Homo sapiens: one gene and its partners. The protein of the gene in region 4 purifies or fractionates together with the protein of the main gene of each other region. This does not show direct contact. Each region holds a gene or a part of one and is shown on either strand. Other genes may lie near its edges.

The links.
Region 1: the proteins of TKT (region 4) and PGK1 purify together in Homo sapiens (affinity purification with mass spectrometry; 2 studies listed by BioGRID, with this or other methods). This does not show direct contact.
Region 2: the proteins of TKT (region 4) and POLA2 purify together in Homo sapiens (affinity purification with mass spectrometry; 2 studies listed by BioGRID and IntAct, with this or other methods). This does not show direct contact.
Region 3: the proteins of TKT (region 4) and UFM1 fractionate together in Homo sapiens (co-fractionation; 2 studies listed by BioGRID). This does not show direct contact.
Region 5: the proteins of TKT (region 4) and ACAA2 fractionate together in Homo sapiens (co-fractionation; one large-scale study listed by BioGRID). This does not show direct contact.
Region 6: the proteins of TKT (region 4) and PITPNB fractionate together in Homo sapiens (co-fractionation; one large-scale study listed by BioGRID). This does not show direct contact.
Region 7: the proteins of TKT (region 4) and PGM2 fractionate together in Homo sapiens (co-fractionation; one large-scale study listed by BioGRID). This does not show direct contact.

The regions. Positions count from the first base shown.
Region 1 is NC_000023.11:78,110,395-78,114,739, reverse strand, and holds part of PGK1 (phosphoglycerate kinase 1), read right to left. Parts: intron 997-4,345; coding exon 841-996; intron 725-840; coding exon 580-724; intron 1-579. UniProt on the Homo sapiens protein: Catalyzes one of the two ATP producing reactions in the glycolytic pathway via the reversible conversion of 1,3-diphosphoglycerate to 3-phosphoglycerate.
Region 2 is NC_000011.10:65,271,769-65,276,113, reverse strand, and holds part of POLA2 (DNA polymerase alpha subunit B), read right to left. Parts: intron 223-4,345; coding exon 116-222; intron 1-115. UniProt on the Homo sapiens protein: Accessory subunit of the DNA polymerase alpha complex (also known as the alpha DNA polymerase-primase complex) which plays an essential role in the initiation of DNA synthesis.
Region 3 is NC_000013.11:38,359,640-38,364,753, reverse strand, and holds the end of UFM1 (ubiquitin-fold modifier 1), read right to left. Parts: intron 4,714-5,114; coding exon of another isoform or gene 4,688-4,713; exon of another isoform or gene 4,044-4,687; coding exon 3,976-4,043; 3' UTR 1,135-3,975; downstream 1-1,134. UniProt on the Homo sapiens protein: Ubiquitin-like modifier which can be covalently attached via an isopeptide bond to lysine residues of substrate proteins as a monomer or a lysine-linked polymer.
Region 4 is NC_000003.12:53,227,994-53,232,338, forward strand, and holds part of TKT (transketolase), read right to left. Parts: intron 3,558-4,345; coding exon 3,364-3,557; intron 2,629-3,363; coding exon 2,464-2,628; intron 1,444-2,463; coding exon 1,287-1,443; intron 1,145-1,286; coding exon 1,014-1,144; intron 367-1,013; coding exon 283-366; intron 157-282; coding exon 63-156; intron 1-62. UniProt on the Homo sapiens protein: Catalyzes the transfer of a two-carbon ketol group from a ketose donor to an aldose acceptor, via a covalent intermediate with the cofactor thiamine pyrophosphate.
Region 5 is NC_000018.10:49,796,510-49,800,854, forward strand, and holds part of ACAA2 (3-ketoacyl-CoA thiolase, mitochondrial), read right to left. Parts: intron 1,086-4,345; coding exon 957-1,085; intron 1-956. UniProt on the Homo sapiens protein: In the production of energy from fats, this is one of the enzymes that catalyzes the last step of the mitochondrial beta-oxidation pathway, an aerobic process breaking down fatty acids into acetyl-CoA.
Region 6 is NC_000022.11:27,888,257-27,892,601, reverse strand, and holds part of PITPNB (phosphatidylinositol transfer protein beta isoform), read left to right. Parts: intron 1-271; coding exon of another isoform or gene 272-430; exon of another isoform or gene 431-473; intron 474-4,345. UniProt on the Homo sapiens protein: Catalyzes the transfer of phosphatidylinositol and phosphatidylcholine between membranes. Also catalyzes the transfer of sphingomyelin.
Region 7 is NC_000004.12:37,839,659-37,844,003, forward strand, and holds part of PGM2 (phosphopentomutase), read left to right. Parts: exon of another isoform or gene 1-1; coding exon of another isoform or gene 2-25; intron 26-189; coding exon 190-273; intron 274-407; coding exon 408-601; intron 602-4,345. UniProt on the Homo sapiens protein: Catalyzes the conversion of the nucleoside breakdown products ribose-1-phosphate and deoxyribose-1-phosphate to the corresponding 5-phosphopentoses.

The DNA of each region.
Region 1 (4,345 bases), on a different chromosome or scaffold from region 4:
GTGACTGCACAACACAGAAAGCCTAAAATATTAACTATCTGGCCATTTATAGAAAAAGTTTGCTGATTGAATGGGCTGAGCTCTAAAGACCAACAGCACCACTGCCTCTAACTTTAATCGTATGACTGCCTTTCAGAAACTTAAGTTTTTTTTTTTTTGAGACTTAGTTTCTTTATGAAATAAGTCGATACCTGTACCTCTATCTTAAAGAGAGATTTAAAGGAACATACTTTACACATCTTAAGAAAATGCCTTAAATCCAAGGTGACATCATCATGACCATCATATTCACTGAATACTCTTTCACCTCAAAGGTGTTCACATATTTTTCAAACATATTTAAACACCACCTGAACATGAAGGAGGGCTTCTGGGATGCTGGTAATATTCTATTCCTTGACCTGGGTGGTGGTTACACAAGTGTGTTTACTTTGAGATAACCCATCAAGCTGTGTCGGCATTGTATGCTTCAATAAAAGGTGTCTAAGTTAAAATAAATGAGCTTTCTCTATTCTTCAACCACAGTCTCTTACAGACTCAGGCCCTCACCCCCAATAATGTCAAAATCACAGGTCCTACCTTGTTCCCAGAAGCATCTTTTCCCTTCCCTTCTTCCTCCACATGAAAGCGGAGGTTCTCCAGCAGGATGACAGACCCAGCAGCTGGGTTGGCACAGGCTTTCTCCACTTCTGGGCCTACACAGTCCTTCAAGAACAGAACATCCCTGAGAAGAGGAAGAGATGAAGACACTTGAGCAGTATGAAAGTTAAAAACCAGTAACAACGTGCTTGACAACTTCCCCCGCCACAAAGTCTACCAGCACCAGAGCCTGGCACTTACTTGCCCAGCAGAGATTTGAGTTCTACAGCAACTGGCTCTAAGGAGTACTTGTCAGGCATGGGCACACCATCAGGCCGGCCTAGGTGGCTCATAAGGACTACCGACTTGGCTCCATTGTCCAAGCAGAATTTGATGCTTGGGACAGCAGCCTTAATCCTGCAACCAAAGAGAGACAACAAACAGAATGAAGTTACTCCTAGAAATTAGTGGGAACTAGCTTATTGATAACCTCATAAAGCATAAAGCTCCTTTTCTTCTCCAAGTTCCTTCAAATCTACTATCAGTAATTCAATGGTGGTCCTTAAGAAGTTAAATGCAATGCCAACCCTCCACCTAGGATTGTACAATCTCATTATGTATCTGCCCCTTTCACAGACAAGAGTTAACACAGCAGGCCTGAGGCTACTATCTACAGAAGGACCTGTCTGCAAGATTAGATCCTGGCTGGTATCTGGGAACTTGGCTTTCAAAGTTAACTGACAAGACCAACAAGGGCTATTCACTCTTCCTAGACCGTCTATACAAACATGGTGATTTATGCTGAACACCTGCCCCACTCTAGAAGTCTAGAATTTTTTTTTTCTTTTCCTTTTTTTGTTGAGACAGGGTCTCACTCTGTCACCCAACAGGCTGGAGTGGAGAGGCACAATCTCAGCTCACTGCAGCTTCAACCTCCCCAGGGGCTTAGGTCATCTTCCTACCTCAGCCTCCCAAGTAGCTGGAACTACAGGAATGCACCACCATGCCCAGCTAATTTTTGTATTTTTTGTAGGGGTTTTACCATGTTGTCCAGGCTGGTCTTGAACTCCTGGGCTCAAGTTATCTGCAGGCCTCAGCCTCCCAAACTGCTGGGAATACAGGCGTGAGCCACCACACCCAGCAGAAGTTTGTAATTTTGGTAGTTGCTAGGCAGAGGATCCCTATGTTACCAGTTCCCAACAAAAATCTTGGGATCTGAGTCTCTAGCATGCTTCTCCAGGCAGAAACACTGCAGACAATTACTGCATTTTTCACTGCTGAAGAAAGGAAAACACTTGATGTGTCCCCTCACAGGAAACTGGAAGCCCATGGATTTCTCTAGACTCCCCCATGTCTTTTCCTCTTCCTAATCTTGTCATGCATTCTTTCACTGTAATAAACTTTAGCCATGAGAACAACTCTGAGTCCTAGCAAATCATCATGAGATATGTGGGTGATCTTGGGGACCCCTGAAAACACTTCTTATATGACTATGGAAAATACATAAAATTCTCAAATCTTGAAACCATCAAAGGAAATTTGGGGAAAAATAAAAAACATGTAGTAACTTTTCTGCACCTATTAATAGATCCTAAGTCACTTTTTTATGTAGGAAAAAATAATTGCACTGTCTAGAGCTTGGTTTCCATAATGTATCACATTCATTACATTATAAATTAATCAAAAAATTAACTCCCTTTAAACATTTAAAAGTTTTGTTATAAACCTGCTACTAACTTGCCATTTTGCCAGTTTATAAGAAATTAAAATTGATCAAGAAAAGCATTTATTTATTCATCAAATATTTATTGAATGCTTCTTTTGTGCCAGGCATCATTCCAGGTTCTGAGAATGAAACAGAAAACTTTTTTAAAAACTCTCTGTTCTCATGGAAGTGAAATTCTAATGGAGAGAGACAATAAACATGTATGTGTGTGTGCGTACATGTAATATATCAGATGGTGAGATACAGAAAAAAAACAAACCATTGTTCCCCATTTTTGTTCCCCTACTTTTGAGGACAAAAATGACCGGGGAACAATGGTAGAGGAGATTTTTAGACAGGATGGCCAGGGAAAGTCTGATATGATGACATCTGAGCAAAGAATGGAATGATTAAAAAAGTTATACTTTTAAAATATCTTATGTTATTAATATTTAGCAGATATAAGAACTCCTTTATATCAAATTTAAAAATCTGTATCAGGTACAAAGTTTGTGCAATGGAACCAATTAGTTTTCAGGACTATCCCTTATCAGCAAGTTTTATTATTTCTAATGCTTCATTTTGTTAATCAACTCCATGGATTTCCGGAAATGAAAAGATTTCCAAACATGTTTCTTTACTCTTAAAATAACTTGATAGGCATATTTCCAATCGTTTCTGTGTGTTGCACAATAATGAAGATCAAGCGGGATCAGATCTGCCTTATACAAAGACCCTGCCACTATGGTACAGCAGGGATGTGCTTGGCAAAATGACAGGCTCTATTCTAGGACCAATACCTGAAAATGTTCTGGGCTAGACCTGCACTGTCCATTACGACAGTCATTTAGTCATGTGTGTCTGTTGAGTACCAGATATATAACTAGATCAAATTGAGATGTGCTGTAGTATAAAAACACATGCCAGATCTTGAAGACTTAGTACCAAAAAAGTTAAATGTCCCTTTAATTTAATTAACACAATTTGGCTCACATTGTATTTCTATTAGATACCACTGGTCTAGATCATTAGAAAGCACCTTGCCAACACAAACCCTTCATTTAAAATTTAAAATAGGCGGAGCACAGTGACTCATGCCTGTATTCCCAGCACTTTGGGAGGCCAAGGTGGGCGGGGTCCAGGAGCTCAAGGCCAGCTTGGGCAAAAGGGCAAAACGCTGTCTCTACAAAAAAAATATGAAAAAGTAGCCAGGTGTGGTGGCCCACGCCTGTGGTCTCAGCTCCCTGGGAGGCTGAGATGGGAGGATCGCTTGAGCCCAGGAGGCAGAGATTGCAGTGAGCCAAGATCGTGCCACTGCACTCCAGCCTGGGCGACAGAACGAGGCCCTGTCTCAAAAAAAAAAAAAAATTAAATAAAAACCTTCTTGATGGATACCCCATTTAACCTGATGTGATTATGTATTGCATGCTTTTATCAAAATATCTCATGTAACCCATATATATATATATATAAAATCTACAAAAATTAAAAATTAAAAAAATTAAAAAGAAAGTAAAGACAAAAATAAAGACCTTTTATAATCTAGTCAAAAGCAAGAGCAGTACTCTCACTTAAAATTTGTTTCTGAATCTAGGATCCAAGACACTGGAGCAGCTAAACTGACTGAAAACGTACTTCTGAAGTCTTTCCTGTTTGTTTTTTTGGAAGCAAAAACAAATGAAAATTCTCAAAAATTGACTTATCTGAGCCATTTGAATGGGGGCTTGTAAAACTACATATAACCTTAGTAACTACTGGTACTTTTAAAATCCTTCTCTTACATAGTTCTTCATTTTGCAAGAGAAGCCAAGTAACCTTAAATTTTTATATTTTTTGTGTGTGTTTTATAGAGATGGTGTCTTACTATATTGGCCAGGCTGTTCTCGAACTACTGGCCTCAAGCAATCCTCCTGCCTCGGCCTTCCAAAGTGCTGGGATTACAGATGTGAGCCACCGCACCCAGCCAACTTTTATATTCTTTAAAAATGAATAACTCTGCCAGGTATGGGGGCTTACACCTGTGGTCCCAGCACTTTAGGAAGCCAAGGCAGGAGGATCACT
Region 2 (4,345 bases), on a different chromosome or scaffold from region 4:
AGGTACATGCCCACCTATAGTTAATTAATAACTCTGCTGTTAGCCTTCCTCAGATAGCCAGAGAAAGGGGAGGGGAGGCCAGCTTTATGGCACTTGAATGAATTATGATCCATACCTTGGAGAGAAACTTGACGGTGAGAGTAGCTGATGGGGGCTACGAGTTGACACACTCCTTTTTGTTAGGGGGGTTTCTGGGGTAGAGATAGCTCGCTTCTGAGAACCCTAGGGAAAAAAAAGGAAAACAAAATCTCAGTCCTACTAGACCCAATACTAATTAAGTGTATAGTACCTTGGAAGAAAAGGGAGAACATGTCCAAACGAAGGCACAAAATAGGACTGGGTGGGTTCTCTTCTTAAGGCCCCATCATCCAAGCATAATCTCAAAAAGAAATCTTCAACAACTGTAACCAACATTCAGGACACTGTCCCTATTTTGAAGGCAATTACGAGAAAGCAAACATTTTCCAAAAAGGACCACCAGGCTGGTAATGTGTCCTGTCAAATCCTTCATATGTTTACTTTCTGTCCCTACCTCTATGTTTTCAAACAGATATGAGTTTTACAATGCATAGTTTTGATCTATGTGTACACATTTTCCTGAGAAGGAATGGGACATTACTACTTACTTTGGCAAAGTCTACCATACATTTTCAAAGGAAATGACTCCAGGCAGATAACAAGGTTGAGCTCATACTTGAAGAGTTAGCAAACATCTGATGGTCACTCCTTTTTTTTTTTTTTTTTTTTGACTCATCAACAAGAATCCAAAGATAAGCCCAGAACGGAGGCTGAAACCTACAGTCCAGAGACCTATTGCTCCCTAAAGTCTAGGATAATCGACTGTAATAGAGAAAACAAAATCCTTGCCTGGATAGCAGCCAGGAAGCCAGCTAGTCTGCAGCTTTCCCTGCCCTAGGGCTCCTCCTGGCTGCAAGTTTAAGAAGTTATATTGCAGAGTGGTCAGCTGGTGGCAACTGCAGGACAGAATGCCAGAGAACAGATTCAAAACCATCAAAACCAGCTGCAATGGAAAATAGATTAAAAAAAAAATCCCTTATTCTACTACCCTGATATAATAACCAGTTTTGAATATTCCTTAATGGTATTTTAATATTTTTCTAGGCCAGGGGTGGTGGCTCATGCCTGTAATCCCAGCACTCTGGGAGGTCAAGGTGGGAGGATCACCTGAGCCCAGGAGTTCAAGACCAGCCTGGGCAACGGCGAGACCTCATGTCTGAGGAGGAAAAAGAAAAGCCAGGCGTGGTGCCTTATAATTTGTATATTAAGATTACAAATACACAAATTAGAATATACAAATTATAGTCATAATCTTAGTTTAAATATAAACCTAAGTATTTTATGTGCTGAATTTTTTCACTCTATATTAATTATCAACATTTTCCCACACTGTTACATTTTTAATCTTTTTTTTTTTTTTGAGATGGAGTCACTGTCACCCACGCTGGGGCACAGTGGCAAGATCTCGGCTCACTACAACCTCTGCCTCCTGGGTTCAAGCGATGCTGCTGCCTCAGCCTCTAGAGTAGCTGGGACTACAGGTGCCCGCCACCACATCCAGCTAATTTTTGTATCTTTAGTAGAGATGGGGTTTTGTCATGTTGGCCAGGCTGGTCTCAAACTCCTGACCTCAATTGATCCACCTGCCTCGGCCTCCCAAAATGCTGGAATTACACCCATGAGCTACTGCACCTGACCCAATCTTTTTCCCTTTTTTTTTTTCCGAGACGGAATTTCACTTCGCTCTTGTTGCCCAGGCTGGAGTGCGATGTGCGATCTCGGCTCACTGCAACCTCAGCTCACTGCAACTCCACCTCCCGTGTTCAAGTGATTCTCTGGCCTCAGCCTCTTGAGTAGCTGGGACTACAGGCATGCACCACCACGCCCAGCTAATTTTGTATTTCTAGTAGAGATGTGAGTTTCGCCATGTTGGTCAGGCTGGTCTCGAACTCCTGATCTCAGGTGATCCACCTGCCTCGGCCTCCCAAAGTGCTGGGATTACAGGTCTTTATCCTTTTTAGTAGCTGTGTTATTTAATTAAACTGACCTACAATGATTTACATAATTACTTCTCTATTGCTGGATTATGGGTTGCTTGTAATTTTCAGTGATTACAAGTAATGCTGAGTCTCAGGTGAAAAGTGATTTGGCAAATTAAGATTTTAAATTAAAAAAATGCTAAAATGCGTATCTTCATGCATACAGCTTTTCCCATAATTTGAATTATTTCTTCAGAAGAGTTTTTTTTTTCCCCCTAGGGAGAATTACTGGGTCAAATGATAGAAAAAGATTTTATGAATTTGGCCAGGGATGGTGGCTCGTGCCTGTAATCCTAGCATTTTAGGAGGCTGAGGCAGGAGGATCACTTGAGCTCAGGAGTTCAAGACCAGCCTGAGCAACATAGTGACACCCTGCCTTTATTTTTTTTATAATTAAAAAAAAAAGATTTTATAATTTTAACACATTTTCTCAAACTATCCCTCCAAAAGATTCTCCTAATATACAGTGGGCTACAACACTCCACGGCCAGTGTTGTGGGGCAGGGATATTTTGAGAGAATGACAGTCTGTCTCGCAAGACGTGGCAAGGTGACAGCACTTTGGTAAACAAGGCACAGTCTGGTGTTCTAGTCCTCAGCCTCAGGGCTGAAATCCAATAGTGTTCACCAACTCCAGTACCAGTTCTCAAGGATGCGCTCCCTTTAACCAAGCTCATACGATTCATTATTAACACTTAATGCCAATTTCATCATGTTTTTTTGTTGTTGTTGTTTTTGTTTTTTGAGACGGAGGGTTGCCCAGGGTGGAGTGTGCAGTGGCATGATCTCAGCTCACTGTAACCTCCGCCTCCTGGGTTCAGGCAATTCTCCTGCCTCAGCCTCCTGAGTAGCTGGGATTACAGGCATGTGCCACCATGCCGGGATAATTTTTGTATTTTTAGTAGAGATGGGGTTTTGCCATTTTGGCCAGGCTGGTCTCGAACTCCTGACCTCAGGTGATCCATCCACCTTGGCCTCCCAAAGTGCTAGGATTACAGGCATAAGCCACTGCGCCTGGCTAGTTTCATCTTTTCTTTTTTTTTTTTGAGATGGAGTTTTGCTCTGATTGCCCAGGCTGGAGTGCAGTGGCACGATCTCAGCTCACTGCAACCTCCGCCTCTGTTCAAGCAATTCTCCTGCCTCAGCCTCCCGAGTAGCTGGGATTACAGGCGCCCGCTGCCACGCCCGGCTAATATTTTTGTATTTTTAGTAGAGACAGGGTTTCACCATGTTGGCCAGGCTGGTCTTGAACTCCTGACCTCAGGTGATCCACCCATCTCAGCCTCCCAAAGTGCTGGGATTACAGGCGTGAGCCACCGCAGTGGCCGGTTTCATCATTTTTAATCAGAAATGTAGTCACCAATGGTACCATATTTTCATATCCTAGGGTAAGCACATTCTCACACTCACAGAGAAAATCAAATTATAACCAAGGATGCCAGTTTATTAATTTACTAGAAATATAATTGCCAAGGGTATGGGAACGTCAAGTCCTCAGGCTAACACATTCTCTCCGTTAGGGACATGGCAGCCAAATCATCAGCAGATTTATGGTGAACACGGAAGCAAAAGAACAGCTGTCAATCGTACAGGTGAAATATTTAATAGTGATAAGCTAAAATCACTGACATATCATATTTACCTCTATAGCAGAGGGACACCTGTTCCCAAGACCTGACAAGGGTCAGGCAACCTCAGCCTGGCACTGTTTGTATGGAAAGGCCAACATTCACACTTTTCTTTTTTTTTGAGATGGAGTCTCACTTTCTCGCCCAGGCTGAAGTGCAATGGCATGATCTCAGCTCACTGCAACCTCCGCCTCCTGGGTTCAAGTGTTTCTTCTGTCTCAGCCTCTCGAGTAGCTGGGATTACAGACACCCACCATCATGCCTAGCTAATTTTTGTACTTTTGTAGCGATGGGGTTTCACCATGGTGGCCAGACTGGTCTCGAACCCCTGACCTCCAGTGATCCTCCCACCTCGGCCTCCCAAAGTGCTGGGATTACAGGTGTGAGCCACCATGCCTGGCCACACTTTGACTATTTTATCATGCTGCCATTGATGCATGGCCTAACAGTGACTGAACAATTTCCATGTGATAAGTACTGTTCTAAGCATTTTACGTATCTCTAGCCTGGACATATTGTTTGCTCAACATTTCACTCCAACTCATTTAGCGTGGAATTCACAGTCACAAACTTTTTTTTTTTTTTTTTTTTCAGACGGAGTCTGGTTCTGTCATCCAGCCTGGAGGGCAGTGGTGTAATCTTGGCTCACTGCAACTTCCAC
Region 3 (5,114 bases), on a different chromosome or scaffold from region 4:
ACTTCAAGGTCCTCGCGTAAAAAACATCTTTTTACGCGAAGATATTAAGTTTTAATATCTTAATATTGGAGTAGAGGAATTAAATAGGATTGCATTTTCTTCCCACTAACGTTTCTTTTGAACAGCTAGTTCTAAGAAAAACTTATCTAAAGAATGTTTGACTTGAAAAACTTTTTTTTTAAAATTTTTTTAGTATTTATTGATCATTCTTGGGTGTTTCTCGGGAGAGGGGGATTTGGCAGGGTCATAGGACAATAGTGGAGGGAAGGTCAGCAGATAAACATGTGAACAAAGGTCTCTGGTTTTCCTAGGCAGAGGGCTCTGCCGCCTTTCGCAGTGTTTGTGTCCCTGGGTACTTGAGATTAGGGAGTGGTGATGACTCTTAACGAGTATGCTGCTTCCAAGCATCTGTTTAACAAAGCACATCTTGCACCGCCCTTAATCCATTTAACCCTTAGTGGACACAGCACATGTTTCAGAGAGCAGGGGGTTGGGGGTAAGGTTATAGATTAACAGCATCCCAAGGCAGAAGAATTTTTCTTAGTACAGAACAAAATGGAGTCTCCTATGTCTACTTCTTTCTACACATAGTAACAATCTGATCTCTCTTTCTTTTCCCCACATTTCCCCCTTTTCTATTCGACAATACCGCCATCGTCATCATGGCCCGTTCTCAATGAGCTGTTGGGTACACCTCCCAGACGGGGTGGCGGCCGGGCAGAGGGGCTCCTCACTTCCCAGACTGGGCGGCCGGGCAGAGGCGCCCCCCACCTCCCAGACGGGGCAGCGGCCGGGCGGGGGCTGCCCCCCACCTCCCAGACGGGGCGGCTGGCCGGGCGGGGGCTGCCCCCCACCTCCCGGAGAAAAACTTCAAAGGTTGTGCAGTGAGTGAGACTGTTAGCTAGCACCTTCACCTCAGGCTACTTACCAAGCATTGGAAAGTGCACTGTCCAAGATTCCAGAACATATTCTACTTACTTTGACCCCTTAGACCTCATTCTGTTCTTCTACAAAGTGAAAAGGTGGCCTTCTCATTAATTCTCAAACCACCTGCATGGCAGAAATCACCAGAACTCCTGTTTACAGAGGATCTTTATATATTATTACAGATGTAATAAATCAGAATTCAAGGAGTGGTTTCCAAAAATCTGTATTTTTAATTTCCTAGGCGACTCTGTTATCACCCAGGTTTGGAACCTACCAACCTAGCCAGTTACAATAACCCCATTTTCTTCTCAACTTTTTTTTTTTTTTTTTCCGTCTGTAAAATGGACAGGCATTTGCAAGTACTGTTATGTATCACTGAATCACAGGAACAAATTCTGAGAAATGCTTCCTTAGGCAATTTTGTCACTATGTGAACATCAGAATGTACTTGTACAAACCTAGTTGATGTCACCTACTACAAACTTAGGCTATTTGGTATGGCCTATTGCTCCTAGGCTACAAACCTGTAGAGCATGTTACTGTACCTAATACTGTAAACAACTGTAAAATGATGGTAAGTACTTGTGTATCCAAACATAGATAAAGCACAGTAAAAATATAGTAATATGGGACCACGGTCATATATGCGGTCTGTTGTTGGACGAAACATCACTACTATGTCTGTGGCAGATGACTATAAACTAATTTCTCTGACTTATGGTCATTAATCATCTTTGCCCTTTTTTTCTTTACTACATGTATTATATACTGACTCAAAAGGTGTGCTGATTAAGAGCTCTAATAATAAGAACAGACAATATGGTTTACAATATAACAACATGTATTTTCATTAGATATTAATTATAAACCAATAACGCATGTAAACTGAATACAATACTTCAAATCATTCTGCACAAAGAAATTACAGATCACATTTTTTTAATAACAAAATGTCTACTTGTTTAATAAAATGTTTTTAGGAACTTACAATGTTCAAAACCAAAGAATAAAAATATTAAATATATCACTTTATGGCACAGGACAACATAAATTTATTTTTGTAACACAGCAGGCAAATTTTTGTGCTAGAAACAGGATGGAGAAAAATCTAAATTAAAGCAAAAAGTCAGGAAATGGGTGTTCATAAATTCCTGCTTAACTAAGACTCAACATTTATTGTAAGAAACGGGGCCTCTGAACATCAGATTTTGTTTATAAAAATAAAAACTTCCTCCCTGTCTCTGCTAAAAATACAAAAATTAGCTGGGCGTGGTGGTGCATGCCTGTAGTCCCAGCTACTCGTGAGGCTGAGGCAGGAGAAGCCTGGCGACAGAGAGTCTGCCTCAAAAAAAAAAAAACAAAACAAATAAATAAAAATAAAAACTTCCTCAAACATCAGATTTTTTCACCTCAGCAAATACTTTTTCCTTTGATAATTCATAATCCTGCTGTTCATTTGTCACATTTATGAATATCTGGTAATTTCATAAACAACTACCAATGGTACACTTCAAATGCTGATTCTGTTGAATCTTCTTATTTTTTTTCCCCCAATGAACTTAGGGCCTATGATAGAGAAGATACTGAAACATGCTAAGATAATAATTGGTCTTAGAAAGACTTTACAGCAAGTATTTAATGAAAGCCACTACATTTCCAGCTCTAAAAAGAGCCAGACACAATCCCTGCTTCCAGAGTTCACCATTCAGAATACAGGAGGTCAAGCACTGATTCTGAATCATTAATGGGCTTTGATTTCGTCTTTCAAGATTTGCATAGATACTGATTTCTTCCGGAAGGGCAAATAAAATCTTCCCTTACACACATCATTCTTTGGATTCTCATAAGGGGTATTTTGAAGTCTGTATGTTGACAAGGCCAGTAGATACTTTGTTTTCTCTAACTGCCTTCTTCTACTTAAGACTATGTCAAGTATTTTGTTTTCCCTTTCAGTTCTCCCCAACATACACCTTCTGCAGTTTTGTCTATCCAGTCCGCTTTTCTGTAACACTTTGCTACCCCCTTCTGTTCCCCTTCACTGTTTCCTCTGTTGCTTTCCTCCTTAATAGAAGCCTGGTGATCTGGGCTTCCCCATCTTTCCTTTCCTGGCTTCTTATTCACATGGGTGACTGATCTTAGCACTTCCTTAAAAGTTGGGTTTTCAATAAATATAACTCATCAGCACTTCCGATCTGTATTTCCTTGAGCTTTTTTTTGATCTTCAGATCTGTGCAATAATACTCTGTTCCTGAATGCTATTTAGAAATACTATCCTCAAAACACCAGTGGTTTCTTGAAGCTACTTGTTTTAAATGTTGTATCAAAAGAGATTGATAAAGGAATGTATAACTCAGCAAAGGATGCTTCTACTGTAAATTCCCACCATTAAAAGTACTGGATTCTATAGGTCCACCATTAAAAGCTGGTATGGGACACCAATTTATACACATAAGGGTTAGATTAAAATTTTAATTTTTTGGTTGATATTAAACTGAAATTTATATAACTGAGGTCTGAATCTTAAAAAAAGTAAATGATAAAAATTTAATATAGTTAACTGTTCACTGATATGTCTATTCACTTCATCACAACCTATATATTTAATTAAAAATCAAATTATGAGTCTGCAAATCAGATGCTATCAAGCAAATTGCCATCCAGGGTCCATAATTCTTTTTATATTTTTATCTCAGATGAATATATACGATTCAGTAAATTTTAATGTTCCAAATTGTTCTAAAAAAAAAAATTATCAAAAGCTTCCAGTTAACAGTTGGCTAATTCATTTGCCCCCAACGAACTACCTGTTTGTGTTGTGAGGTAGCATCAAAGACTATGATCTTCTGTGACAGTAGTAGCCTTAATTCATACGCATTCCCTCTTCATAGGAAGAGTATGGACAACAAAAAGGGACAGATGAGTCACCTTTCATTAATCATTGACTCCTGGTGTTTTCATAGTATGTTAAATGCCTGATTTCAATTTTACAACAACAAAAAATACCAATATTTATTCTGAAAGGCAATCGTATGTTCCAAGTAGCAGATATTAACAACTTCCAACACGATCTCTAGGAATAATCCGCAGTTCTGAACCATGTTTTAGAAAAACATTTCCTATACAAACAAACAAAACATAAAGTTAGATATCTAAAAATCAAGTTATCTTAATATTCTGACAATTATTAAATATAATAAATGATTTAGTAAACAGTAAAATGGGTACAAAAGCTCAAGCATCATGAGACCCCAATTCCAAGCTTTTTAAGTCTTGTTCCTATTCTCCTATCTTCACAATCCAACATACGCTTAAAATTTAAAATAACACCAGCCATGAAAACTCTGACGAATACTTTCATCAAGTAACTGTGAATAATTTAATCATGAATACTTCCTTCAATACACAATAATATATCTAAGGACAGGAAAAAAAATGTAAATTACTACAAGTGACAAAAATTTAGATACCCTGACATATTTGGGGTCAATTGCCTGATGAGATTTTCTTCATATCAAGGATATGCACATTCAATTTTTAAAGATAATAAAACAAGCAGTATGTTAGAGTTAGCAGTAATTCAAACTACTGTAAAATATTGAAAGTTTCTCGATTAAGAAAAAAAGAAACCTTTGTCTACTAAGTTTAAAGGCATCCATACAATAAAGTGCCTCACGATTTTCAATAAACCTTTTTAATAAAATTATATATTAACAACTACTGAAGTAACAAAAATTTGCAATTTTAAATCACTTCATTTTCTTTATGGCTGAATTTCAACTGCAAGGCCTGTGAAAACAACATAATTTTGTTACAATAAAGAAATACTTTAGAATATAATTTAAAAATAACTACTGCTCTAGAATGAGGTTACATTAAAGCATGCCTAATTTTAAAACTTTAGATTATAAGCCTAAGAGATTACATTTTAAAAATATAAAACTAATTTTAAAAAAGTTTTAGACTTCTTTTTATAAAGTATGAGACTACTTTTACCCTGTCTCCTGGTCAGGACACCAATATATCACCTGTATAAATTTAACAGTTTGAAGATCTGAATGTAGACTCAGCCCCTTGAAATGTAAATGACTATATTTAAAAAAAATAATAGCACTTAATGAATGCTTTCTATAAATAATCCAAGCTATGAAGCACTTTACAGTCACTATCTCACAACTACCTTAAGAGGT
Region 4 (4,345 bases):
ACCCCAAGACCTAGCATGCAGTGGCCGCTCAGTTGATGACTTTGGAGGCCCCTTCTCCTCACCTTTCTTCAGCAGTTCGGCAGCGGCCAAGGCCTCGTGCAGGGTCACCCCAGCCCCGATAACGGTCACCTGGTCATCCTTGCTCTTCAGGACCACCTGGGGGTGACACAGAGGGTGAGTAAGGCTCAGGGCCCTGGGGCAGGGTGTGCCCTGACTGCTGGGAGTCACAGCAGGGAGGGTCCAGGCAGCTCTGTGGGCTCCTGGGGCATGCGAGGCACTGACCTTGGCTTGTCCGACCTGGAAGTCCTCATTGTTGTTATAGATGATGGCATTTTCTGGGCGGCTGGTCCGGATGAAGCAGATACCCTGAGACCGAAACAGATAAACTGAGGATACAGGATGTGGCACACCCAACCTCAGAGACGAGGTCTTTCTAGAGAGGCCATCCCTTCCCATGGGAGCGTTAGTTACTGCATCCTGGCTACTCCAGCAGGGAAAAGGGCCTTGCTTGCCCTCTGCCGCCCGCACCCCACTTGAACACTCTGAGAACTGCCCACCACCTTGCAGCCTCAGACCGAAGGCAACTTTCCACCAGGTAGACTGGCTGCAGGTGGGCTACTCCCACAGACTGCACCAGGCAGAGGGGCAGGAACCACGCGCACTGGGTCTGTGGCATGCAGCTCCGGGCCTGGACCACAGGGCTCAGCTCATCCTTGCCTGTCTTGGAGAACCCAACTCAGGAGGGTGGAGAGGTGTCAACCGCTGGACCGGCCAGGGCTGCCAGGATTCTCAGCAGAGACAGACTGGCAATCAGTTGACAATGTCTGCCACGTGGCAGTAAGTGGGGTGTGTATTTCGTTTTTTCTTGTCTAACTTCCACAAGCTACACGAACACCAGGGGCAAGGTCAGGAAACACCCCCTGGGGCAGCAAGTGACCAGCTCTGGCCTCCTCTTCTGTTTCCCTTGGGAAGTGATGGCTGCCAGCAGGAGAAAGAACAGCCATGCAACCTACCTTTGTATTGGCGGCTAGTTCCACTGCCTTCTCTGTAGCAACGCCATCACTTGGGTAAAAGACAGTTGATGTGGGGACTGACCGAAACATAGCCAGATCTTCTAGGGCCATCTGGGAGGGCCCGTCTTCCCCTGGGGTGTGGGGGAAAGGATATGCAGAAATAAGACCCCTACCCCCCCATCCATGGGCTGGAATCCTGGCCCATCCCCCTCCCATACCTCCTGGTGCAAAAGTCAAGGGAGCTCCAGGTGTAAACACCCTGGCTAAACTCACCGATGGAAACGCCGCAGTGGGAGCCGCAGAGGTTGATGTTGCTCTCGGAGATGGCGGCCATGCGAATCTGGTCAAAGGCCCGCGTGAAGAAGGCTGCAAAAGTGCTGCAGAAGGGCACCGTCCTGTTGCGGGTGGCACAGCCCACCGCGATGCTCACCTGGGGGCAGGTGGGACAGGGTCAGCCCAAAGGGGCAGGCAGAGGGTGGTCGGGGAGCCTAGGACCCCTTTTGTGGAGAAAGCCACAATTTGTATATAGATTGTCCATCCTTTCTGGGCTTCTGAATATGTCCCCCACCACCTTCTTCTGCAGAGACCGGTCCTCCCAACCCCTCCCTGGGGTCCGAGGGCAGCAGCCTCATGCCTGCTGAGGCTCCAGGCCCCAAATCACTCATCCAGAAGCAGCACTGAGTACAGTCATCAGTTCCAAACCAGCTGCCCTTCAAGGCTCCAAAATCTGCCAGCCAACACAAGGCCTCTTTCCCTAGTACCTGGGACCTCCCCAGCCCCACGCCCTGCAGAGCAGTCTCTGGAAACCACAGAGAGAATTTCAGGTCCAGTTGGAAGAACTCTGGAGATCTGAGTGCCCTCCAGAGAGAGGAAGCTCCCTGTCCCTAGGGGCCTGCAAGCCAGGCTGGGCTCCTGGACCACCAGGAGGGGATATTTTGAAAACATGGACAAAACATTGTTCCTTACTTCACAACCTCAGTTCCTGACAAGGGTCTGCTTCCCCAAATGGGTACATGTCAGGGGCCCAGAGTTCCCTCATCTCTGCATCCCTCAGGGTGGCAGGGCCCAGAGCCGTGTGCATTACAGGTGCTCTACAGACTCGGGCTGCTAAACCCATCACGGCCCCACCTACTGGCCAGGCCTGTCCTCCACCTGGAAGAGACCCCATTCACCACCAGGCCTGGCCTGTACGCAGCTCCTCCTGAGAGCACCTGCAGTCCCATTCGGCTCCCCCATGTGCACACCTGTCCAGGACATTTGCACCTGGGCAGAACCTCCCAAACTGTGGCTGTTCAAGGTCAGGGGTTAACGCTGGGTCCTGGCTTTTCTTATAGTCTCCCTGGGCTGGCCTACAGCAGGCACCTGGCTCTGCCAACATGGCTGCCCCGCACCCCTCAGACCACAGCCCTCAGCCTTGGGTGGACCTGTCCCTGCCGGCCCCAGCACCTACCATGTTCTGCTCAGCAATGTAGCACTCGATGAAGCGGTCCGGGTGCTCCTTTTTGAAGATCTCCGAGAAGGTGGAATTTTTGGTGTCCCCATCCAGGGCGATGATGCGGTCACTGGCATGGCCCAGCTTGGCCAGTGCCTGCCCGTAGGCCTTGCGGGTGGCTATCTGTGAGGAAGAGAGTGGGAAGGCTCTGGACCCCTCTGAGGGTGAGTGCACACCTGCAGCCTGGAGCCCTGCTTTCAGAGAAGGATTAAAACGGGGCCAAAAATGGAAGCCCTGGAGCACAAGGTCCTGCAGAGGCTTTTAACTGCTGAAAGGTTGCCAACGACTACGGTCAATGTCTTGGGAGCCCCTGGAGCCCCGGCCCCTTCTGGCTGTGAAAGGTATAAGCTACAGAAGACACCCACCAGCCCCAACTTCCCGCCTGCTGCACCAGGTCCATGAACCTATTCCACTTTGCATGGGAACACAGAAGGCTTGGGAGTCAAGGCCAGGCACAGGCTGCATGGATGGGTTCCCTTGGGACAGAAACCTGGAGTGGGACAGCTCTGCCTAGCCTTTCCCAGGTCAGGTGGGGGTCCTGAGCTCAGGCCAAGGGTCCCTCGTGGACCAGCGATGCAAGAACTTGGGAGTGAGTCCTTGGCTTTGATCTCAGTTCTGTCAGTAGCTTGCTAAGCTTGCTAAGTGGGCAATTCCCTTGCCCGGTCTGAGCCTCTGCAGGTCAACTCCAGAGATGTCTGTCATTCTGAGGGAAGTGACAGGAACAACACCTCAGGGATCACTCCTCGCCCTAAATGAATCGCTCTCCTCCCTTTCCCAGCCCTCCAGAGGGTGTATCTGGGCCACAGACTTGGGAAACCTGAGAACTATGGGTTCAGAGAAACAGGCCCCACTTTGTACCTTGTCCCCAACTTTGTAGCTGGGCAGGCTGGGCATGCGGATGTTGGCAATGTCCACTGAGGGTGCGTCCTCCTGTGGAGGGGTTGCCAGGATCTTCTTTTTGCTCTGGATCTGGCTGTAGATCTCCTGGATGATCTGCTCAGCCATGTTTTTGGGGAGGGGCTTCCCATGCCAAGACTCCTTATCTTCTACCCCTGCAGACCCAACACGGGAGGACAGAGGAATGGGTAAGACAGAAGCTCCCAGAGGGCCAGGAGGCTGCTCCAGGAGACTGGCCCTCTACCTGCCGAGGGCAAGGGAGGAATGGCATCATCCCAGACAGGCAGAGCCCAGCCAGGCACGGGGGCCAGGAAAGGAGGGTCGCAGTGAATAGGATGGACTCCTACGTGCCCACCACTCACTGTCTACTGCCTGGTCCTTTGGGAGCTCACAGCTGAGTGGGAAAGGAGGGGCCAGACGTGGGCAGGTGTGTGTTTCTGGGCCCACTGCCCCATCCCTTCACCAATGTGTCCATTCTCTTCCTCCCCACAACCCCGCCTGCAGGGTCACACACAGGTAGAGGTGTCTGCTGCAGAAATACTCAGTTTGTCGACTGGGTTGGAAGGGACCCTGGCCATCAGAAGGGGAACCCAAGGCCCAGAACAGGGCTTCCAGGGTCACCCAATGCATCTGTGAGCAGCAGAGGAGTCTATAAGCACCTAGGCATGCCCACCCCATGGCACCTTGTTGTGTGCGGCCAGGAAGGCTGAATATCCCTCTCCCTGGAGGTCACCTCAGTAGTCACTAGAGTCTGGCCAGAGCCAAGAACAGACTGAACTCCCAGGTAGCACCCAGCAGCCCGAAAGACTAGCAGGAGCCCCCAAGAAGCTGCAAGTGGTCCAGATCCTGCCCATTTTTAACACCAGAGGGCAGTGCCAGGCAGCAGCACCAAAGCCATGACAATATCCCAGAGCCCTTTCCTCGACATCCACCCCCTCCCAGA
Region 5 (4,345 bases), on a different chromosome or scaffold from region 4:
CTCTTATTTTGTTTGTAATAAAATGAAGACTTTTACAAATGAAATTGGATTTCACTTTCTTCTCTGTGCTCAAAGAAACAAATGTATTTAACCAACTGTCCTTTAAAAAGGTCAAACTAGTTTGTACTTCTACTAACAGCATCATTCACTTCCTTTGAAATAAAATACATTTCCTTATCCTCTCCTAAATTCTTGAGATTTCCTGCTTGCCTCACGGTCTTTATTCAGTGCCTCACAGGTAACACTCACAGACCTGGGTTCAAATTCTATGACTGAGTAACCTTAATGGCTTTAATCAGTTTCCTTGCCTGTAAAATGGGAATAATAATAATAGTTCTTGCTTCATAGGATGGTTGTAAGATTAAATGAGATATTGAATGTAAATCTAGCAGGGTGCCTAGCATGTAGGAAGCACTCGAAAGAATGATGAACATACTAGCTTTTAAAAATATTGAAGTATATATATATATATAATACTTACCATTTTAACCATTTTTAAGTATACAGCTCAGTAGTTTAAGTGTATTCATAGTGTGATGCAACCATTACCATCACCCATCTCCAGAACGCTTTTCATCTTGCAAAACTGAAACTCCATATCCATTAAACACTAACTTTCCCTCACCAGTCCCTGGGAACACCATTCTACTTTCTGTCTCTATGAATTTGACTACGCTAGGTATCTCAAAGAAGTAGAAACATACAGTATTTGTCCTTTTATGACAGGCTTATTCCACTTTCAGGTTCATTATTAGCTTTTTTTTTTTTTTCTTTTTTTTGGAGCCAAGGTCTCACTCTGTTGCCCATGGCTGGAGTGCAGTGGTATGATCATGGTTTACTTGACCTCCAGGGCTCAAGCAATCCTCCCTAAAGCTAAAGTGTTATATTGCAGTGGGACATTTCTTCTAGTAACTATTAACATATTTTCAGAGAATTTAAAAAAATGTTGTCCATACCTGACATCCATTCACAATGGACTGAAAACCAGAACCACAGAGCCTATTAATCGTGAGAGCTGGGGTCTCCTTTGGGATTCCCACACGCAAACCAACATGCCTTGCCAAATATATAGCATCTGAAGAACTCTAGAAGAGAGAAGGAAAAGAAAAATAATTTTCTCTATAAATCTACTAATTAAGAACAAGCACGAAATACATGGAAATGTTGGCAATCTATCAAAAATGATAAACTATATGGCTCTAAGGTAGGACAAAATGCATCTAAGTACAGCATATTATATCTAATATGTGTTTACAATTTGAATAAAAACTACAGTCAATTGGGTTTTTTTCTATTTTTTTATTGGGGCAAAATACACATAACAAAATGTATCATTGTAACCATTTTTAAGTGTATAGTTCAATGGTATTATTTAAATACATTCATAATGTTGTGTAACCACAGTCAATTGGTTTTCAAATATATTAAAGATAATTGCTACTTAGAGAAATCCCATTAAGTCCTTAATATAAGACAGAAATTTATAACAATTAGAGTTATTTAAAAATGGAATACGCTATCCTAAAGTAGTATGCTCCTTAACAGAGGAAGTATCGGAGGCTGTGGTTCTCAACCTTGGTTGCAGGCTGGAATAACCTAGGAAGCTTTATTAACATACTCATGCTTAAGTTCCTAAGCAAATCAATTAAACCAGAAAGGCTGGAGGTGGGGCCTGGGCATCAGTAGTCACTTTTAAAAAGCATCCCAAGTAATTCTAATGTAAAACAGGCTGAGGACTGCATACTTAGGGAGAAGACAGATGAATGATTGGTCAGGAGAGTAAGAGGTAGGAGTAGACCACCACTCCCAAAACTTTAAAATGCATATGGGGGCGTCTTGTTATAATAAAATGTAAGTTCTGAATCAACAGGTCTAGGTCTGCCGGAGATTCTGCATTTCTAACCATTTCCCTGGTGAAGCTGATGTTGCTAGTCCAAGAACCACACTTTGAATAAAAAGAATGACTTAAAAAAAAAAAACCAACAACAACCAAAAACATTAACAGCCTGTTTTGGAGGCTGTTAGCAAGAGCAAAAGCAAGTTTGACAAAATGTAAAACATTGGTCTATCAAGGTACGGGGTTTTAGGATGTTCATTGTACTATTCTTTTAACTTTTGTGTAGGTTTCAAGTTTTTCAAAACTTGACAAATTCGGCACATTTATAAGTTAAGGGTTTTGAATGCAGATGGAACTGGGAGGAACTCAGTATAACATCAATTAATCTACTAACTAAATGTTTCATCTGTTGACTGAGATGAAATTATCTTATTTTACAAATTAATGTCATTAAAAAAATTCTTGGCCAATGGATATTCTTTTGCCAAGGTTTGTCAAATATCACATATCAACAGAATAAAAAAAATTTACACGATCATCTCGTGTAAATTATTAACAGATAAATATTTGGGGTTAGGCCTTTATGGTTAAGAGAGAACAGAATATGCTTCGAATAACATTTGACAAATACCACAAAGCTGCTTTTCTAATTGAGTTTAATATTATTAAATATCACTTGGAATAAATGAGTTTTACTTATTTCTTAGGAAACAATGAAATCCAATGTGGATTTCAACACAAAAAGTCAACAGAAAAAGTATTTGACAAAATACAACACCCTTTCATGACAAAAACACTGAACAAACTAGGAACAGATGGCAACTTTCTCAATCTGACAAAGGGAATCTATAAAAAATCCACAGCTCTCCCTCTCCCCCTCCTCCTCCCCCTCTCCCCACGGTCTCCCTCTGATGCCTAGCTGAAGCTGGACTGTACTGCTGCCATCTCGGCTCACTGCAACCTCCCTGCCTGATTCTCCTGCCTCAGCCTGCTGAGTGCCTGCGATTGCAGGCACGCGCCGCCACGCCTGACTGGTTTTCGTATTTTTTTGGTGGAGACGGGGTTTCGCTGTGTTGGCCTGGCTGGTCTCCAGCTCCTAACCGCGAGTGATCCGCCAGCCTCGGCCTCCCGGGGTGCTGGGATTGCGGACGGAGTCTTGTTCACTCAGTGCTCAATAGTGCCCAGGCTGGAGTGCAGTGGCGTGATCTCTGCTCGCTACAACCTCCACCTCCCAGCCGCCTGCCTTGGCCTCCCAAAGTGCCGAGATTGCAGCCTCTGCCCGGCTGCCACCCCGTCTGGGAAGTGAGGAGCGTCTCTGCCTGGCCACCCATCGTCTGGGATGTGGGGAGCCCCTCTGCCTGGCTGCCCAGTCTGGAAAGTGAGGAGCGTCTCTGCCTGGCCGCCATCCCATCTAGGAAGTGAGGGGCGCCTCTTCCCAGCCGCCATCCCGTCTAGGAGGTGAGGAGCGTCTCTGCCCGGCCGCCCATCATCTGGGATGTGGGGAGCGCCTCTGCCCGGCCGCGACCCCATCTGGGAGGTGAGGAGCGTCTCTGCCCGGCTGCCCCATCTGAGAAGTGAGGAGACCCTCTGCCCGGCAACCGCCCCGTCTAAGTGAGGAGCCCCTCCGCCCGGCAGCCACCCCATCTGAGAAGTGAGGAGCCCCTCCGCCTGGCAGCCACCCTGTCTGGGAAGTGAGGAGCGTCTCCGCCCGGCAACCACGCCATCCGGGAGGGAGGTGGGGGTCAGCCCCCACCAGGCCAGCCGCCCCGTCCGGGAGGGAGGTGGGGGTCAGCCCCCGGCCGGCCAGCCACCCCGTCTGGGAGGGAGGTGGGGGGTCAGCCCCCCGCCCGGCCAGCCGCCCCGTCCGGGAGGTGGGGGGGTCAGCCCCCCGCCCGGCCAGCCGCCCCGTCCGGGAGGGAGGGAGGTGGGGGGGTCAGCCCCCCGCCCGGCCAGCCGCCCCGTCCGGGAGGTGAGGGGCGCCTCTGCCCGGCTGCCCCTACTGGGAAGTGAGGAGCCCCTCTGCCCGGCCACCACCCCGTCTGGGAGGTGTGCCCAGCAGCTCATGGAGAACGGGCCATGATGACCGTGGCGGTTTTGTGGAGTAGAAAGGGGGGAAAGGTGGGGAAGGGATTGAGAAATCGGATGGTTGCCGTGTCTGTGTGGAAAGAAGTAGACATGGGAGACTTTTCATTTTGTTTTGTACTAAGAAAAATTCTTCTGCCTTGGGATCCTGTTGATCTGTGACCTTACCCCCAACCCCGTGCTCTCTGAAACATGTGCTGTGTCCACTCAAGGTTAAATGGATTAAGGGCGGTGCAAGATGTGCTTTGTTAAACAGATGCTTGAAAGGCAGCATGCTTGTTAAGAGTCATCACCACTCCCTAATCTCAAGTACCCAGGGACACAAACACTGCAGAAGGCCGCAGGGTCCTCTGCCTAGGAAAACCAGAGACCTTTGTTCACTTGTTTGTCTGCTGACCTTCCCTCCACTATTGTCCTGTGGGCCAA
Region 6 (4,345 bases), on a different chromosome or scaffold from region 4:
TAGTTAATGACTAGGTCAGGACAGCTTACAAGCCTGGAGCTGCCCATCACTAAAATACCAAGCAGCAGTATGCCACACCAGGATCGGGTGCCCTGGGGAAGGCATTCCCATTATGTTGTTGGTGTTTGAAAATGCTATAATGACCAAACAAAATGGCTCGACTGACTCAGACTTATGGTCCATAGGTTTGCAGTCTACGTTGTTCACCAGCAGAGTACAAGATACCTTTGGTTTTGCTGGAGGCATAAAAATTCTTTGTTCCTGTCCTCAGGCGAAAATGGGCAGTGTTTACAGGCATGAATGCTGGTGGAAAGAGCAGAGTAAGGGCAGATTGCACAAGAACCGTGGAGGCCCTGGTTCCCATCACCTCCACCTCAGCACAGACTTCAGAGAGGAGAGGAGGCACTGGATGCATGACAGCAGCACTTGAGATAGGTGCTCCAGGTGGAAGGCACTGCACATGCAAAGGCTGAGTAGGTAGTTCTCTGTGTGAAAATGGTGATGTTTGGGGTGGATAGCTAGTGAAAAAGACTGGATTGAGCCCAAGTGAGGAGGATCTGTGTTGTGAGGTATGGAGCTTTGACTAAAAACATACATTCTAAAACTAGGTGGGCTTCAGATTTCCATTCTGAGGCTCTGCCACCTACTGGCTATTTAATCTTGGACAAGTTGGTTAGCCTCTCTTTGCCTGTATTATCTTGTGTAAAATGAGAGTAATTATAAGATTAAATGTGAGCACTTAAGAGTATATTAGTCTGTTTCATACTGCTGTAAAGATACTACCCATGACTGGGTAATTTATAATGGAAAGAGGTTTAATTCACTCACAGTTCTGCATGGCTGGGGAGGCCTTGGGAAACTTACAGTCATGGTGGAAGGGGAATCAGGCACGTTTTACATGGCGGCAGGAGAGAGAGGAGGAGGAAGGAGGAACTCCTAAACAGATCTTGTGAGAACTCACTCACCGTCACCAGAACAACATGGGGGAAGCTGCCCCCATGGTCCAGTCACCTCCCTTCCTTGACACATGGGGATCACAGGTCCCTCCCTTGACATGTGTTAATTACAATTTGAGATGAGATTTGGGTGGTAACACAGAGCCAGATCTTATCATACAGCCAGTGTGTAGTTCAGTAAATGCTAGCTGTAATTATCATTATTATTAGCTCCAGTTGTACAAGAGTTCCAAGAGTCTGTGTTCACACCAAGCATTGTCTGGGGACTAAACACAACCTGCGTATATGTGGCTTTTTGATGTTCATAGCTCCTAATTTCCCATTACGTTTTAGAGATTAGTAAGATATAAATTTATTTTAAAGTTTATTGAATTTGCAGGAACTATTTTTTATTGGGATAAAATACACATAATCTAAATTTTACCCTTTTAGCCATTTTTAAATGTATAATTCAGTGGCATTTGGTACATTAACAGGGTCCTGCAACCATCACCACTGTTTAGCTGCAAAACGTTTTCATCACCCCAAGAGGACACCCTGTACTCATGAACAGTCGTTCCCTGATTCTCCTTCCCCCTAACCTCTGGCAACTGCTAACCTGTTTTCTGTCTTTTGGGATTTGCCTATTCTGGATATTTCATATAAATAGAATCACGCAACGCACAGCCTCCTGTGGCTGGCTTCTTTCTTATACTTCGCATTGATTTACAAGATTCATCTTCGTAGTGTGTGTCAGTACTTCATTCCTTTCTATGGCTGAATAATATTCCAGTGTATGGATAGACCACATTTTGTTCATGCATTCATCTGTTTTTTGTTTTGTTTTGTTTTTGAGACAGAGTCTCGCTCTGTCGCCCAGGCTGGAGTGCAGTGGCGCGATCTCGGCTCACTGCAAGCTCCGCCTCCGGGGTTCACACCATTCTCCTGCCTCAGCCTCCCGAGTAGCTGGGACTACAGGTGCCCACCACCATGCCCAGCTAATTTTTTGTATTTTTAGTAGAGACAGGGTTTCGCCATGTTAGCCAGGATGGTCTCGATCTCCTGACCTTGTGATCCTCCTGCTTCAGCCTCCCAAAGTGCTGGGATTACAGGCATGAGCCACCGCGCCCAGCTTCATACGTTCATCTGTTGATGGACATTTGGGTTTTTTCTACCTCTTGGCTGTTGTGACTAGTGCTGCTGTAGACCTTTGTGTCACAGGAGCTTTTCGTCTAATGTGCTGTCTTGGGGGATAATTAAAGAACTGTTACGTAAGGATTATCAGACCTTTTGATGTAAAAAAAAAAAATAATTCCAGTATGCATATTTCTCTGTTACAAAAAGAAAGAGAAGAACTTTTTGGTGGCAAAGTTGCCCTTGACAGTTTTTAAGCCTGGAGCAGAGCATTGAGCTTCCAGGGTTGGGATGGAGGGTGTGGGGGTGGGCGGTGTTGAAGGCAGGTATGGGTGGTGGCAGGAGAGCTAGGACCAGACCCCCATTTCAGGGAGGAGGTGACTGTGAAATCTAGTGGTGCAGGGACCCTGGGTCTGCTCTTTTCTTCTGCACATCCTTGTCTGTCCACTTTCACAGGCATTGACAGCTGCCCCTACACTCTAACCCTTTAATTTCCGCCCCATTGTTTGGGCCTTGACTAGTTAGTGTTTTAGGATTAGCTTCTGTCCCAAACACCTGGACCACCTGAAGGTCACTACTTCTTACCAGATCCAATTTGGTTTTCTGTTAAGTTAATTAGTTCATTTCATTCTGCCCTTTTAGGTAATTTTGTCACTCGAATATTCTAGTCTACAGTGTAGAGAAAAGGCACAACACCTTTGCTATTCTAAAACGGTAATGTCATAGCAGTCAATAGTACTGAATGCCTGTGCAGTGTGTACCAGTGCTGTGCATGCAGCACTGTGGTAGCTGTCGAGGATTTGTATAGCACCTACAAGAGACTTACAGTCTTAGCAAGAGAAGCCCAGTACAATGAAGTAGTTAACAAGTGGCAGAGGCTTACAGCGTGGTCCAAAGTGCTGTAGGATTTCAGAGAAGAGAACAGATGATCTGTAAGAATGCAAAGCTGAAAAGGCTGAAGGAAAGACTCCTGACATGAGGATGTGTAGAGTTTTGATGAGTGGAACAGTCATTACACTTTTTCCTCTTACACTCGTTGCTCTGACACATTATACGTTTATTTCTTCATTTTTCTCTCTCCCTTCCAAGTAGAAATTAAACCTGAGAGGGAAGAGTCTTTGCAACCTTAGCCCATGTCTCCCCAGATCCTATAACACTGTCTGAAATGTAGTGGGTACTCAGTGAATTCCTGTTAATAAATGAATCATAGGCAAGCAGAATAGAAATGAAGGTACAGGTGTACCATCTGACATTGAATTGGAGTAGTTTTTCGAGCTGAAGGGAACCTTAGCTACCTAGGCCTCCTTGCATTTAGACTGTGCTTCACATAATCCTAAGAGTTTCTTGCCCCCTCCTCCCTCAGGTTATCAGGATGGAGCAACTAGAATAAGGGGCTGAGTTCCTTCCTGTTCCCTCTCCCAGCGCAGTTGTGCTTGCTTGTCGTTAGTCTTGACTGTAAGATTTACTTTGAACACACAGTTCTGCAGCTACAGAAATTTTGGTTTCAGGGCTAACCTCCTGAGGCCCAGGTAAGCTAGTATTTCTCATGATCACTTAGCTAATGCCTAAAGTGGAAATCCCAATTCTCAGATCACTGACTGATTCTTCCCTAGCTCAGGCCTTGCCAGGGCAGTCACTCTTCGAGCTGCCACTTGAGCATTCTCTTCCTCTCCTCACACTGCTGTGCCACGGACCATACCCTATGCTTTCCTGTTCCAACACACTACTTGTTCTCACCTCCTTTCTGGGACTCCTTTCTCTGTCCAAAGTTGACATGTCCTTCAGGATCTAGGTAGGTCGGAGCTTGCCTCCTCCAGGGAGATTTCTTTCAAGTTGAAATCAGTCTTCCTCTCTGCTGAATTTCAGAAGCTTTTGCTCATTTCATTGGTGTGTTTTGTTCTCTTTGTTTAGCAACCTGTTCCCTTTTTACAGAGTAGGCCCTTCATAAATATCGGTCAGATGAACCTGATGAGCTTGAGAATAATGATGAAACTAAACACTATGAGCCAAGAGTTTGTACTGGAATACAAAATCAATTTGATGTCCTTTTGATAACACCTGGGTTGGCAAGGGATGAGGAAGCAGGCACTCCCATACATTGTCTGTGGGAATGTAAATTAGTGGAACTGTTGCTAGTCTAGCAGAATTACAAGTGTACATAGCCTGTTGACCCAGCAAAATTCTGCTTCTAGGAATTAACTCTACCCACTGTAAAGTGACAGGTGTATAAACCTAGGATCAGAAGTCTAAGTGTTTCTTTATCAATCGGGAACTGA
Region 7 (4,345 bases), on a different chromosome or scaffold from region 4:
TATGAGCAGCCAGTTAATTCTAAGGGTAATTGCATACTGCTGGGGTGTGGCTCAAAAATATTATGCTATTTATATATTATGTTTATTAAAAGGGAGCAAGTTGGCATGAACAGTATAAAATAGACATTTTAAGAATATCTGGTTATTTTCGTTAAAAACTGTTTGTTCTTGTTTCCTGCTATGTTACAGCCCTTCACAGTATCACATTTGAAACTTTGTGCTGGAATCATGATAACTGCATCTCACAATCCAAAGCAGGATAATGGTTATAAGGTATTTTCCTTTTTCTACTCCACACGTACATCCTTCTGTAGGAATCCTGTATCTGTAATTTTTGGGACCATAGGTAATAGGTGCCTTATTTCCATTAACTGTAAACCTTCTGAATGTGTTCCTGGGTCCTCTAGGTCTATTGGGATAATGGAGCTCAGATCATTTCTCCTCACGATAAAGGGATTTCTCAAGCTATTGAAGAAAATCTAGAACCGTGGCCTCAAGCTTGGGACGATTCTTTAATTGATAGCAGTCCACTTCTCCACAATCCGAGTGCTTCCATCAATAATGACTACTTTGAAGACCTTAAAAAGTACTGTTTCCACAGGTAAATGAATTGTGTCTTCACTGACCTTAAGTGAGTTAATGTGATTCAGCCAAATTCTATTAGTGTTTGTGAAGTTTTTCTCTTTAATTTGCTCATGTACTACAGCTGCATCTGATTTTATTTTATTTTATTTACTTATTTTGAGACAGGGTCTCACTGTGTCACCCAGGCTGGAGTGCAGTGGCACGATTTGGCTCACTACAACCTCTGCCTTCTGGGTTCAAGCGATTCTTGTGCCTCAGCCTCCCAAGTAGCTGGTATCACAGGCGTGAGCCACTGCACCCAGCTAATTTTTTTGTATTTTTAGTAGAGACAAGGTGTTGGCATGTTGGCCAGGCTAGTCTTGAACTCCTGGCCTCAAGTGATCCACCCACCTTGGCCTCCCAAAGTGCTGAGATTACAGGTATGAGCCACCACGCCCACCCAGCTGCATCTGATTTTAGAGGCTGTAGATCAAGCCTTGGCAAACTTTTCTTAAAGGGACAGATAGTAAATATTTTTGGCTTTGAGGTCCACACAGACTCTTTCTCAGCTACTCAACTCTGCTGTTTTAGTACAAAAGCCATCATAGATGAAATGTCGGCGAAGGAGTGCAGACAGAAGTGGGTGGCTTGCCCATAGGCCATAGTTTGCTGACCTGTTATAGATTCCATACATGTATGTGATTCATACATATTCATACATGTAAGTGTGTGTGTGTGTGTGTATATATATATATATATATGTATGTTTTTAAAACTTGCTCAAAAGTCTTGAATAGCAAACACTGGTATTTTTCTATCTTTCCAAAAATTTTCTGTGCATATGCAAGCGTATATATATATATATATATATATATATATGTGTGTGTGTGTGTTTGTATATGTATAATATACTTCAAAACCATAAATAGGAATATTTGTGTGTGTGTGTGTGTGTGTGTGTGTGTGGTTTGTTCTGTGCACTTTTCCCCCCAATTAATTTGTCATGGACACCTTCCTGTGTTAGTCCCTATTAGTCCTGACTTTCTGTCTTAAAGGCTGCTGCACCGGTGTATTTAACTCAGTGACACAGACTCAGTCCTTACCATCAGGTAGGAAGAGGTGTAGCAGAGTGACAGTAGTGTCTGCTTGAGTATGCTGTAGGTCCCACCCCTCCTGATTGTCCCCCTAGCAAGAAACCACTGATTCAAAGAAACTGAACTTGTAGGTTTGTCTTTGATACTGTATTTGTTGGATCAGCTGATGGTGCCCACTCCAGTGCAGAGTATGAAAGCCCAGTCCTGCCTGAAGGGAGCAGCCGTGCCAGCTGAGTGTTGCCCACATGAAAATATAGGTCCCAGTTGCCAGATCATCTGAGTTCTCCTCTTCCCAAAATAACTGGAAACCTGGATTTTGTGTGTGAAATCTCCTAATTCCTACGTGTTGGACCATTTTTTCCAATGGTGTGTAGTCCAGACAAAATACGTCTGTGAACTTTCCCTCTGCCCCTCTGATTTAACTTCACGAAGAATGAGGCATTTCTGCTTTTCCACTCCAGGTAGCTTGGGAGTTAACTCCCCTTGTGCACAGTTGCTTGAGTATGTGTGTGGGTGTGTGCGCGCGTGCATGCACGTGCATGTGTGTGCGCATGTGTATCCGTAAGGTAACTTTCTGGCATCAAAATTGTATGTGCATTCACAAAGTTGATAGTGCTTAGCAAATTGACCTCCAAAAATATACCAGTTGGTGCTCCCACCAACAGTAGATGTTGACAGCATATGATACCTACATTTCCTCCTGCTCTGTGATCCAATTTCTCATTTTTCCTGATTTGCTAGTTGAAAGTAATAGCTCACTTTTATTTGTATTCTTTAATTAACCTATATTTTCTATGTGTTTGTTCACCTTTTATATTTATAAACATCTTTGTTTATAATATATATACATATATACATATTATATATACATATATGCATATACTATATATATAAAATATATTTTTTAGATGTTTTCTGTTGTCTTTGGAATTTTCTATTGAAACTGTTTGCTGAACTGTTTAAAAATCTGTATAATATTTATTAGTCTTATTTTATAGCTTCTGGGTTTTATGTCATGCTTAGGAAGACATGCTCTATAGCAAAATTATTAAAGTAATAGCAAAATATTTCCCTTGTTCTTTCTCTAGAACTATCATGTTTGTGTTTTATAATATTTAAATCTTTTGTTTCATTAGTGATTTTTAATTTTATATGGGGCATGAAGTAGGAAAGCAGATTAGATTTTTTTCTAAAAGGTTTGCAGTTGTACCAACATCAATGGAAGAATCTTTCTTTTTTTTCTTTTTTGACTAATTGGAAAGGTCACCTTTATGCAACAATTTCTAACATTAATCAAGTGCTTATTATATATCAGATAACTGCTGGAGGCCCTTCACATGTCATTTTTTTTCTTTTTTTTTTGAGACAGGTTCTCACATTGTCACCCAGGCTGCAGTGCAGTGGCATGATCTTGGCTCACTGCGGCCTTGACCTCCCAGATTCAGGGAATGCTCCTGCCTCAGCCCTCTGAGTAGCTGGTACTGCAGGTGTGCACCACCATGCTCTGCTAATTTTTTGTATTTTTTTGTAGAGATAGGGTTTCACCATGTTGCCCAGGCTGGTCTCGTATTCCTGAGCTCAAGCAATCCACCCGCCTCGGCCTCCCAAAGTGCTAGGATTAGAGGAGTGAGCCACTGTGCCCGGTCAACATGTAATTTCATTTAATCCTCAGAGTAATGCCAGTAAATTCTGGTATATTATCATGCATGTTATAGATGAAAAAACTACAAGGAAGAGTGGTTAATAGCCAGCAGTCACACAGCTTATAGATGGCAAAGCTCCAGGATTTAAATTCAGAGTCTGACTCCAGAGCGTGTTAACCACTCAGCATTATTACTTCTGTGTTCATCTCCCATTTCAAATTAGATCAACTTCTGAACTCTCTATTCTGTTCCTTTAATCTGCCTTTTTATGTCTAGTACCAAGCTGTTTTAATTACTGTAGGTTTATTATGTATTTTAAAATCCAAGAGAGTTGTTTTTCCAGATTTTTCTTCCCTAATCTTACATATTTATTTTCCAAGATGCATTTTATTTTCAGGGTATGCTTGTTTTAAACCACAATTCTCTTAGATAAGACCTTGTTCATTTATTCATTCCCAAAAGAAATGGATAATAACCTAAGATTCCAGCCATCAGAGCACTGGAAGTTTTTAAAGCCTTTTATTTTTCTGTAACTTCTCCTGTTAATTTTGGTATCTGTTGTTAGTCTGTATAAAGTCCCTAAGTCATGGCATGGTATCAAACAGGATTGTTACTTGGCAAACAAAAAGTTTTATTTATTTATTATTATTATTTTTTTTTTTTTCCTGAGACGGAGTTTCGCTCTTGTTGCCCAGGTTGGAATGCAGTGGCACAATCTCGGCTCACTGCAACCTCCACCTCCCAGGTTCAAGCGATTCTCTTGCCTCAGCCTCCCAAGTATCTGGGATTACAGGCATGCACCACCATGCCCAGCTAATTTTGTATTTTTAGTAGAGATGGGGTTTCTCTGTGTTGGTCAGGCTGGTTTTGAACTCCTGACCTCACACGATCCACCTGCCTCGGCCTCCCAAAGTAAAAGTTTTATTTTTTATATCTTTATGTATGGGATAACCCAACACATTTTGTTAAAAAGGACATTTTGAAAATCATTTCTGAAGCTGATAAAAGACATTTGGGAACCTGTCGCTTTGGGGATGTGTGGGT